Linked DNA regions of Homo sapiens: regions 1 and 3 are each linked to region 2. The links come from fine-mapping of genetic effects on gene expression. A gene starts in region 2. Each other region holds a variant in brackets. All regions are shown on one strand. Distances are from middle to middle. Region 1 overlaps KCNQ1 (potassium voltage-gated channel subfamily Q member 1). Region 2 holds the start of CDKN1C (cyclin dependent kinase inhibitor 1C). Region 3 overlaps KCNQ1 (potassium voltage-gated channel subfamily Q member 1).

Region 1 (2,747 bases), 150 kb after region 2:
CTTCCCAGGACCCTGGCTGGCTTGCTGCCTGTGGGTGGTCACCAGCCCCCAGCAGGAGCCTCGAGTTTCTGGGCCTCCAGAGGGTGGGTGGGACCAGAGCCACCCCTGCCTCAGGCAAGATGGGGCTGGGGCCCATGGGGCAGGGGAGACCGCCAGGGCAGGGGTCCCCTCCCTGGGCCCCAGTGGGTGGGACAGAGGCCCCCAGGCTCCGGCTGCAAGGCGAGGCCTCGGTGGCGGCCACAATAAATATGTTTGTTCAAGGGAAGCCAGGCTGGGAGCTGTGTGCGCCGGCCCGGTGAGGAAGAAAAGGCCGCTTGTGCCTTGCACACTGGGGCGATTGTTCCTGCTCACGCAACTGCTGCCCCGTGGCCGGAAAGGTCAGACGGCCCTCGGGCCCCGTCGGAAGCACCGGTGCCTCGGGCCCCTTCGCTCGCGCCTGCTGTAACATTCGCCTGCGCTCCTCACTGCCCGGCTGCATCCACATCACCTCCAGGCCTTGGCACGGGGAGAGAAGGTACCAGGCAAGGTCTGAAAGATGGCCCAGCAAAGGCGAGGGAAGAAACGAAGCCAGGAGTCCCCTGCCCAGCCCAGGCGTCAGGAATAGTGTGGAAAGAGGAGGCCCCAGCTGGTGGCCTCAGCACCCTGAGGGAGTGGCTCTGGCCCCGAGGGTCTTCGCAGTGCCCACGGGGCAGCTTGTTTTGTGGACTATTGTTTGGATATTGGGGGATGCCAAGGTGAGGGTTGGGGAGAGGCCCAGGAGCACATGAGAGGTGCCAGCAATGCTCCTGAGGCAAGACCAAGCATCGTCCTCACCCACCAAACAGAAGGCTGAGAGGCACTGCCTGGCCGCAGCCCCGCTTCAGAGCAAATGGAGTCGACAGAGGCCACCACGCAGGCACTCCTGGCTCTCCCACAATTTAAAAACCCTAAAGGGCAAAAATCAGGAACTCAAGCCTGGTTTCCTCCCATTCCTCTGAAGGGGGAGGAAGGAACACAGGAGCCCACGGCTTGCAGGCCACACCTCGCTGGTCCCCTGCTGGCAAGGCGGCCTCCCTCTCCTCTCCTCTCTGCAGGAGACAGCTCTGTGAGATGGCTTCATCCAAAGGGCCCTCAGAATTGTGGTCCTGATGGTGAAGGCTGTGAGCAGCCGCTGCAGTGGTGTGATCAGACGCTCTAGCTGAGTGAGTTACCCACCACTGTCTTCCACCCGGAAGAGCTGGGAGATGGGGCCATAGGAGCCTCCTGGGTGGCTGGCAGAGGGGACAGGGACTCTGGACCAGCCCTCCCCTCCCTTGCTTCAGGCGCCTTTCTCTGGGCCTCAGGCCCTCCTGTGTGCGCTGCTGGGGGTGATTCTAGGAACCTGATCTCCATGACCACAGGGTCCCCCAAAAGATGGGTCTGTTCCGGAGGGCTTGCCTCAAGCAGCGAAGGGGACTCTGACATGGGAGGAAAGCCCTCTCCTGGGTGAGAACCTGGAGCCGCACCTCCTGTCCCGAGAGATGGCCGCCCTGGGTGTCCGCCTTCCCTGTGTCCGGTGCCCGAGTGGGCGTGTGGTGGGCGGCCTGCAGTGCTGGCTCCCTTTCCCAGGCCTCTCCCGCTGACACACAGCCGGAATGTGCCAGACTCA[C/T]CAAGGCCTGAATTCCCGAGGGGTCTGGCATGCCGACTGTGGGACGAGGGCATTTGGGCATTGTTCTCTCCATGCAACAGTGGGGTGCATGGGCGGTGAGGCCCCTTGGATTCCGCCTGCCACCCTTGGCTTTATGAAGCTGCACCAGGTCTGACTCAGGCCTTGAGGAATTCAGCACCCCCTCGAGTGGGCACAGGGGACTGTACCTAGGGGCTGCCTCCCTCTGCCAGGCTGGGCAACGCAGCCCCTGCCGTGAACAGAGGTGCCTGGCTGCCCTCTCTTTCCCCCAGGTCCCTGAGGACCTTTGGGTCCAAGGTTGAGCTGTGAGGCCAAAGGAAGTGTTTGCTCCCAATGCAGGGCAACAAGGGCCTTCCTTTTCTATGAGCAAAGCTGGGCTCCCAGAGAGCGGCGGCTGGGAGGAGGCTGGGCCGGGGCTCTCATTTCTGTAGTTGGTTCAGCTGGGGGCAGCCTCTGGTCCATCTGGCCTGGTGCCCAGCCCTGCTTCTGGCCACAGCCACAGAGGCCTGCCACCAAAACGGCTCCAGCGTCTGTCCCCCATCCCTCCATTCTTCCCTCCTCTGCCCTTCGAAACCACCATTACTGAAGAACCCTGCGTCTCCCAGGGGCAGCCCCTCTTGGACCACCTGCAGCAGTTCATACCATAATCCGCCTCCCCCAGGGTAATGGGGCCTGGATAGGGAGACTCTGTGGCCATACAGGTCTCACCTCTGCACTGGATGCCTAGGGACAAAGTCCACCTGCCTCCTGGGGCCTCCCAGGCCCCCTGCAGTCTGTCTCTGCCAGACCCCACCACGCTGCTATTGACCGGCTCCTCCAGATCACCCCTGCACTCCCCATAAGAGAAAGAGGGAGGAAGGGAGGTTGTGAAGAGCGCAGGACAGAAGCAGAGACAAGGGGGCCGTGGGGAAAGGCCACAAGCCAAGGGAGGTGGGGCCTCCCTTTGAGCTTCCAGTGGGAACCAGCTCTGCTGGCTCCTTGAATGTAGCCCATGTCGGACATCTGACCTCCAGAGCTGTTAGATAATAAACGTGTCACTTAAAGCCACTAAGTTTGTGGGAATTCATTACAGCAGCCGTAAGAAGCTAAAATGGTCCCTCTC
Region 2 (2,747 bases):
CTGCCTCATGGTAGGTGGGCCAAAAGGGAGGCAGCAGGAAATAATGGTCTCTTTTGGTCTGGCCTGGCTGGGGTGAAGCACCGTGTGTGTGCGTGCGTGTGTGTGTGTGTGTGTGTGTGCGTGCGCGCACGACCGAGGTCTGTACCAGGAAGGGCTGCAGGCGGGGGAGGGGCATGGTCCTTCACAGCCCCTTCCCCTATGACCTCGGGCAGATCTTTCACTTTTACCCAGTACAACAGCTTCCAGCCAGCCTGGACAGGCAGATCCCGGGGCTGGAGTGGTCTGGCCCAAGGCTGAGAAGGGCTGGGACCCCCGACAGTGACATGATGGGCTCAGCCCCTGTTCCATCTACTGGGCAGGGTGGGCCTCCGCAGATAGCGGCTTCAGACTCCAGCTCCAGGGGGCTGGTGGGAGTCTCTCAAGGTGTCCCACACATGGTCCCTCGGGGAAAGAGTGGAGCTGACCCCTGTCCCCCCTCCCGACTCGAGGGCCTTAGGGCCAGCAGGTGTGTGAGGGCTCCAGGCGCGCGGAGCCCTCGAAGGGACACCAGCCCAGCAGCAGCAGGCCGCGCGGGGGCAGCCGAAGACCCCATCCGGCGCAGGCCAGGGCCGAGCTGGCAGCGGCGGGTCCAAGCCTCGTCAGCTGGCGCAGGAGGCCCACGGGCGAGCGCGGGACGGAGCTGGGCGCCGGGGTCCGGACCGGGCCGGGGTCGAGTTGGGCCTGGCCGGACACCGGACCCGCCAGGAGCCGGCCCCTGCCGCGCTGGGCTGAGGCCCCCGCCTGCAGACAAAGGAGCCGGCGGGGGGCGGGAGCCGGGGGGGTGGGGGAGTGTTGCAGGGGGGATGGGGCGAGGGGGCGGGCGTCGCGGTGTCACGTTACCGCCCGCAGCGCCCTTTAACTCCCGCCCCCGCCCCGCTCACCGCCCCCTTCCCCTGCTACAGCGCGCTCGCCCCGCGGCCGCCAATCAGCCGCGCGCCCCGGCCGCGCGCCCCGCCCCGCCCCCGGTGGGTGTGCGCGCGGCCAATGGGCGGTGCGCGGGGGCCGGGCCGCGGCGGGGCGGGGCAGCGGGGCGGCCGCCAATCGCCGTGGTGTTGTTGAAACTGAAAATACTACATTATGCTAATCGCGGCCGGGCCCGCGCGCACGGGGGTGGGGCCCGCGCGTATAAAGGGGGCGCAGGCGGGCTGGGCGTTCCACAGGCCAAGTGCGCTGTGCTCGAGGGGTGCCGGCCAGGCCTGAGCGAGCGAGCTAGCCAGCAGGCATCGAGGGGGCGCGGCTGCCGTCCGGACGAGACAGGCGAACCCGACGCAGAAGAGTCCACCACCGGACAGCCAGGTAGCCGCCGCGTCCCTCGCACACGCAGAGTCGGGCGGCGCGGGGTCTCCCTTGCGCCCGGCCTCCGCCCTCTCCTCCTCTCCTTTCCCCTTCTTCTCGCTGTCCTCTCCTCTCTCGCTGCCCGCGTTTGCGCAGCCCCGGGCCATGTCCGACGCGTCCCTCCGCAGCACATCCACGATGGAGCGTCTTGTCGCCCGTGGGACCTTCCCAGTACTAGTGCGCACCAGCGCCTGCCGCAGCCTCTTCGGGCCGGTGGACCACGAGGAGCTGAGCCGCGAGCTGCAGGCCCGCCTGGCCGAGCTGAACGCCGAGGACCAGAACCGCTGGGATTACGACTTCCAGCAGGACATGCCGCTGCGGGGCCCTGGACGCCTGCAGTGGACCGAAGTGGACAGCGACTCGGTGCCCGCGTTCTACCGCGAGACGGTGCAGGTGGGGCGCTGCCGCCTGCTGCTGGCGCCGCGGCCCGTCGCGGTCGCGGTGGCTGTCAGCCCGCCCCTCGAGCCGGCCGCTGAGTCCCTCGACGGCCTCGAGGAGGCGCCGGAGCAGCTGCCTAGTGTCCCGGTCCCGGCCCCGGCGTCCACCCCGCCCCCAGTCCCGGTCCTGGCTCCAGCCCCGGCCCCGGCTCCGGCTCCGGTCGCGGCTCCGGTCGCGGCTCCGGTCGCGGTCGCGGTCCTGGCCCCGGCCCCGGCCCCGGCTCCGGCTCCGGCTCCGGCCCCGGCTCCAGTCGCGGCCCCGGCCCCAGCCCCGGCCCCGGCCCCGGCCCCGGCCCCCGCCCCGGCCCCGGCCCCGGACGCGGCGCCTCAAGAGAGCGCCGAGCAGGGCGCGAACCAGGGGCAGCGCGGCCAGGAGCCTCTCGCTGACCAGCTGCACTCGGGGATTTCGGGACGTCCCGCGGCCGGCACCGCGGCCGCCAGCGCCAACGGCGCGGCGATCAAGAAGCTGTCCGGGCCTCTGATCTCCGGTGAGCCCCGCACGGCCCCGCCCCGGCCCGGCCCGGCCCCGCTTTGTCCGGCCGGCCGGTCCCCCCAGCCCTCGGGGGCCTCGCTGGGTTCCCGCCTCCTCCCGTGGCATTAAAGGGCCCGCAGCGCTCAGGGCGCGGCTGCGCCCTTACCCCCCTCCCCGCCCCGTTGTTGTGCCCTCCAGCGGCTTCGCGCGGGCGGGGTGGGAGGCTGAATCCCGGCCGCGACCCCCCGGGAGCGCAGTTTTCGCCCCCGGCCGCGGGAGCCCCTCCCCGGGCGCGGCCGGGCGCCGTGAGCACGGCGTGGAGGGGGTTAAGCGCGGCGGCGGCCCCGGGGGGCTTGGCCGCGGGACAAGGGGAAATGCTTACACAGCACATTGCGCGGCGACGTAAACAAAGCTGACCCGCCGCGGACCTCGGCGCGGGCGGGGACGGCGCCCCCACCCCGGCC
Region 3 (2,747 bases), 49 kb after region 2:
CAGTGGCTCCGGATCAATGCCAGAGTCCGCTCACAACCCTGTGGTCTGGCCCAGCCCCCATCCCTGGCCTCACTCTGCAGCCTGCTTCCCGGCGCGCCGGTCCCTGGCCCCCAGCCCCAAGCCTGCTTCCTTCTTTCTGCATGCCGTTTCACACTCCTCCAGGTGCCTGACGGGCATGTGGATAGTTTGGCACCTGTCCCCCGACCCTGCCAGTGGCTGTGAGCCACGTGAGGTCAGTCTGGCTTCCTTCCATCCCCACCTCTGTCTGCCTGGTCCCTACTGGTGGTGTTTGCTTCTCAGAAGTAGGTCCCCTTCCTGAAACTGCCCTTGGCGTGCAGCAGGTATACCCTAAATATTCCTGAATTTGGGACGGGACGTTTCTGGGCTGGCTTCCTCAGTCTGTCCCACGTTGCCACCATTTTTCTCTAAGACAGAGGCCTCTGGGGCCCATGACCCCCTCTCCTTCCTGCAGACAGAGAAAGCACCGGCACCTGCTGATCTCCCACACCACAATGTCCACTTGCTGGGCGAGAACCTTTGAGGCATCCCTGCTGTTCTCGAGATACCAGCCTCGGCTGAGGGTCCCTCGCCGCCGGCCCCTGTGGCCCCCTGGGCGCCGCCCTTCTCGCCCCAGAGCCGGTTTCCTCTGGTTCCTACCTCAGGACCCTCACATGGGCTGGCCCTGCCTCCTGGAGCATCCACCCCTCTCCTTAGCCTCCAGACCCTTCTCATTCTCCAGGCCCCAGGTGAGGGTCTCCTTGGTGAGGCCCCCTCCCTTCCCCCTCCTGGTTTGGCTGTGGCCACTTCCCCTGCTTTCCATCCCCCACCTCTGTCTGCCCGGTTCCTGCTGGTGGTGTGTGCTTCTTAGAGGCCGCCTCCCCGAGGGCAGGGCACTGCACAGCCAACAACAGTTCAATGGCCTCTTGCTCGCTGGGAGACCCTGGGCCTTGGTCACCTCTCGAGCAGGGAGGGGCCGGGGAGTCTGTTCTGTGGCACAGTGCAGCCTGGGGGCTCAGGCCCGGGCGTGTCTGGGAACGGAGGCTGTGAGCGCGGAGCGGGCTCTCCTGGGCCCCAGGCCACTCCCTGGGCCTGAAGGGAGGGGCTCAGGGGAAGGATGAGGCCCCTCGTCCCCAGCTCCCTGGGCACCACTGAGAGGCCTCTGGCCACCTCCGTCCCTCAACATTGGCCACGCCCACAGCCTGCTGTGTTCTGTCTCCACCCAGGCCTCTCCCCGGGCGCTCTTGGCTGTCCCTGCTGGCTCAAGACGGTGTCCTCTCTCTGGACACTCGAGAGGCTGCCCAGGGTGCTCCCAAACACGCACACCATGTGAGCCTCTTCCTCCGCCCTACGTGCCCCATCCTGCCCATCCCCAGGAGA[G/A]GGCTGCCATGCCCCGTGCCCCCAGCCCACGGGCTCTCTGCGGCTGGGGTGCTTGTCTTCCTGAACCCTTTCTGTGAACGCCTCACATGTTTGCTTCAAAATTAGTCTGTGTACAGGGTTTTTCATGGTATAAGTACCCTATGAAGACGTTCTCCCGCCAAATAAAGACATTTCAAAGACACATCTCCATTTCACCTGCCCCATTTCCCTCTAGGGCCCCTGCCTGCCAGGTAACCAGCTTAGGGATCTGATGTTTCTCCTTCCAGCAACTTTGATACGCAGCTCGTGCCTGGTTCTGCCTGGTCAGCGAGGTTTAGCACGAGTGAGGCGAGGCGTGATGTGACACACATGTGGCTCTCCACTGCTTGTTTCCATGCGACACACTTGTGGAGGCTGCACGTAGAATCACGGGGACAGTGCTGGCTCCTGGGACGGCTGTGCAGCCCTCCTTTCTGTGGGGATTGCTGACATCACCACCCAGTCCCTGCTGGTGGGCGTGGAGGCTGAGGGCTCCACAGGCCAAGTCTTTCTGCCTACATGTGCTGGTGTTCGGGGGGAGGGGTCCCCTCTTCTGGGGAGCTTGGTGGCAGCAGCCAGGCTGTGCTCTCCCACCTCCTCCCCTTGGAGTGCAGTCCGGCCTCACCCTCTACCTCCTGGGTGAAAACTTCTACCTCCGGCCTGAAACGTCACCATGCCTCCCCACAGACAGACGGATGGACAGATGGGCCTCCCTGCACCTGCTCTGTGGGTGTGGGGGCTCCTGCTCAGCAGCAGTTTCCAGACCCTTCTCCCTGCTTTCCCCAAGCCACCCGCCTTGAATCTGGGGTGCTCTACCAGACCCATCCCCTCATTTCTAAAGATTTGAGCCACTAGTCGTGTCCCTCTCCCTCAGAAATGCCTTGGTGACACTTGGCTGCTTTCAACTCTTCCACCCATCTGCCTCTTGGTCTCATCTTTACCTTCTGCTAAAGGTCCTGACCCCCACCCCCGCCACGCCACGGGGCACCCCATGGTGGTGCGTCCTTGGGAGCAGCTCTGTCCCTTTCCCCGTGGCCTTTGCCCCGCCTCCTATGACTTCGATTCCCACCTGTCCCCGACCCCTGGGACCACTGACCGGGCCCGATCACCCTGTCACTGCCCTGTCATCTGCTTACCCCACACGGTGCTCTGCTGACCCAGGTCTTGCTGTCTCCCAACAGCCCCACGAGGCTTCCCGTCGCTCCTGGACACTGCAGGCTGAGCCCGCTGCCCCGCCGCCTCCATGAGGAAGGCTTTTCCTCTGTGAGCCCCAGGCCACCCTTTCCCTCCTTTAAGTAATTACTTAAGTCCCTTGCCAGGGCCCTCCCAGTACCCTTTCTAAAGACACCCCT

The links. PIP is the estimated chance that this variant, and not a neighbour inherited with it, causes the effect.
Region 1: its variant is fine-mapped to the expression of CDKN1C in tibial nerve (GTEx, PIP above 0.99).
Region 3: its variant is fine-mapped to the expression of CDKN1C in whole blood (INTERVAL, PIP above 0.99).

The regions. Positions count from the first base shown.
Region 1 is chr11:2,730,260-2,733,006 of GRCh38, reverse strand. The region is part of intron 11 of KCNQ1 (potassium voltage-gated channel subfamily Q member 1); the gene reads right to left. Among named protein-coding and RNA genes, the nearest start is that of KCNQ1OT1, 32 kb to the right of the region's middle. RefSeq lists an enhancer at 1,090-1,259. The variant C/T (reference allele first, on the strand shown) is at 1,628.
Region 2 is chr11:2,884,222-2,886,968 of GRCh38, reverse strand. It overlaps CDKN1C (cyclin dependent kinase inhibitor 1C), which reads left to right and starts at 1,194. Exons shown (of 4, transcript NM_001122630.2): 1 at 1,194-1,335; 2 at 1,503-2,299. The coding sequence starts at 1,513. RefSeq lists enhancers at 1-532, 533-1,368, 1,369-2,204.
Region 3 is chr11:2,835,696-2,838,442 of GRCh38, reverse strand. The region is part of intron 15 of KCNQ1 (potassium voltage-gated channel subfamily Q member 1); the gene reads right to left. Among named protein-coding and RNA genes, the nearest start is that of KCNQ1-AS1, 24 kb to the left of the region's middle. RefSeq lists enhancers at 1,740-2,606, 2,607-2,747. The variant G/A (reference allele first, on the strand shown) is at 1,378.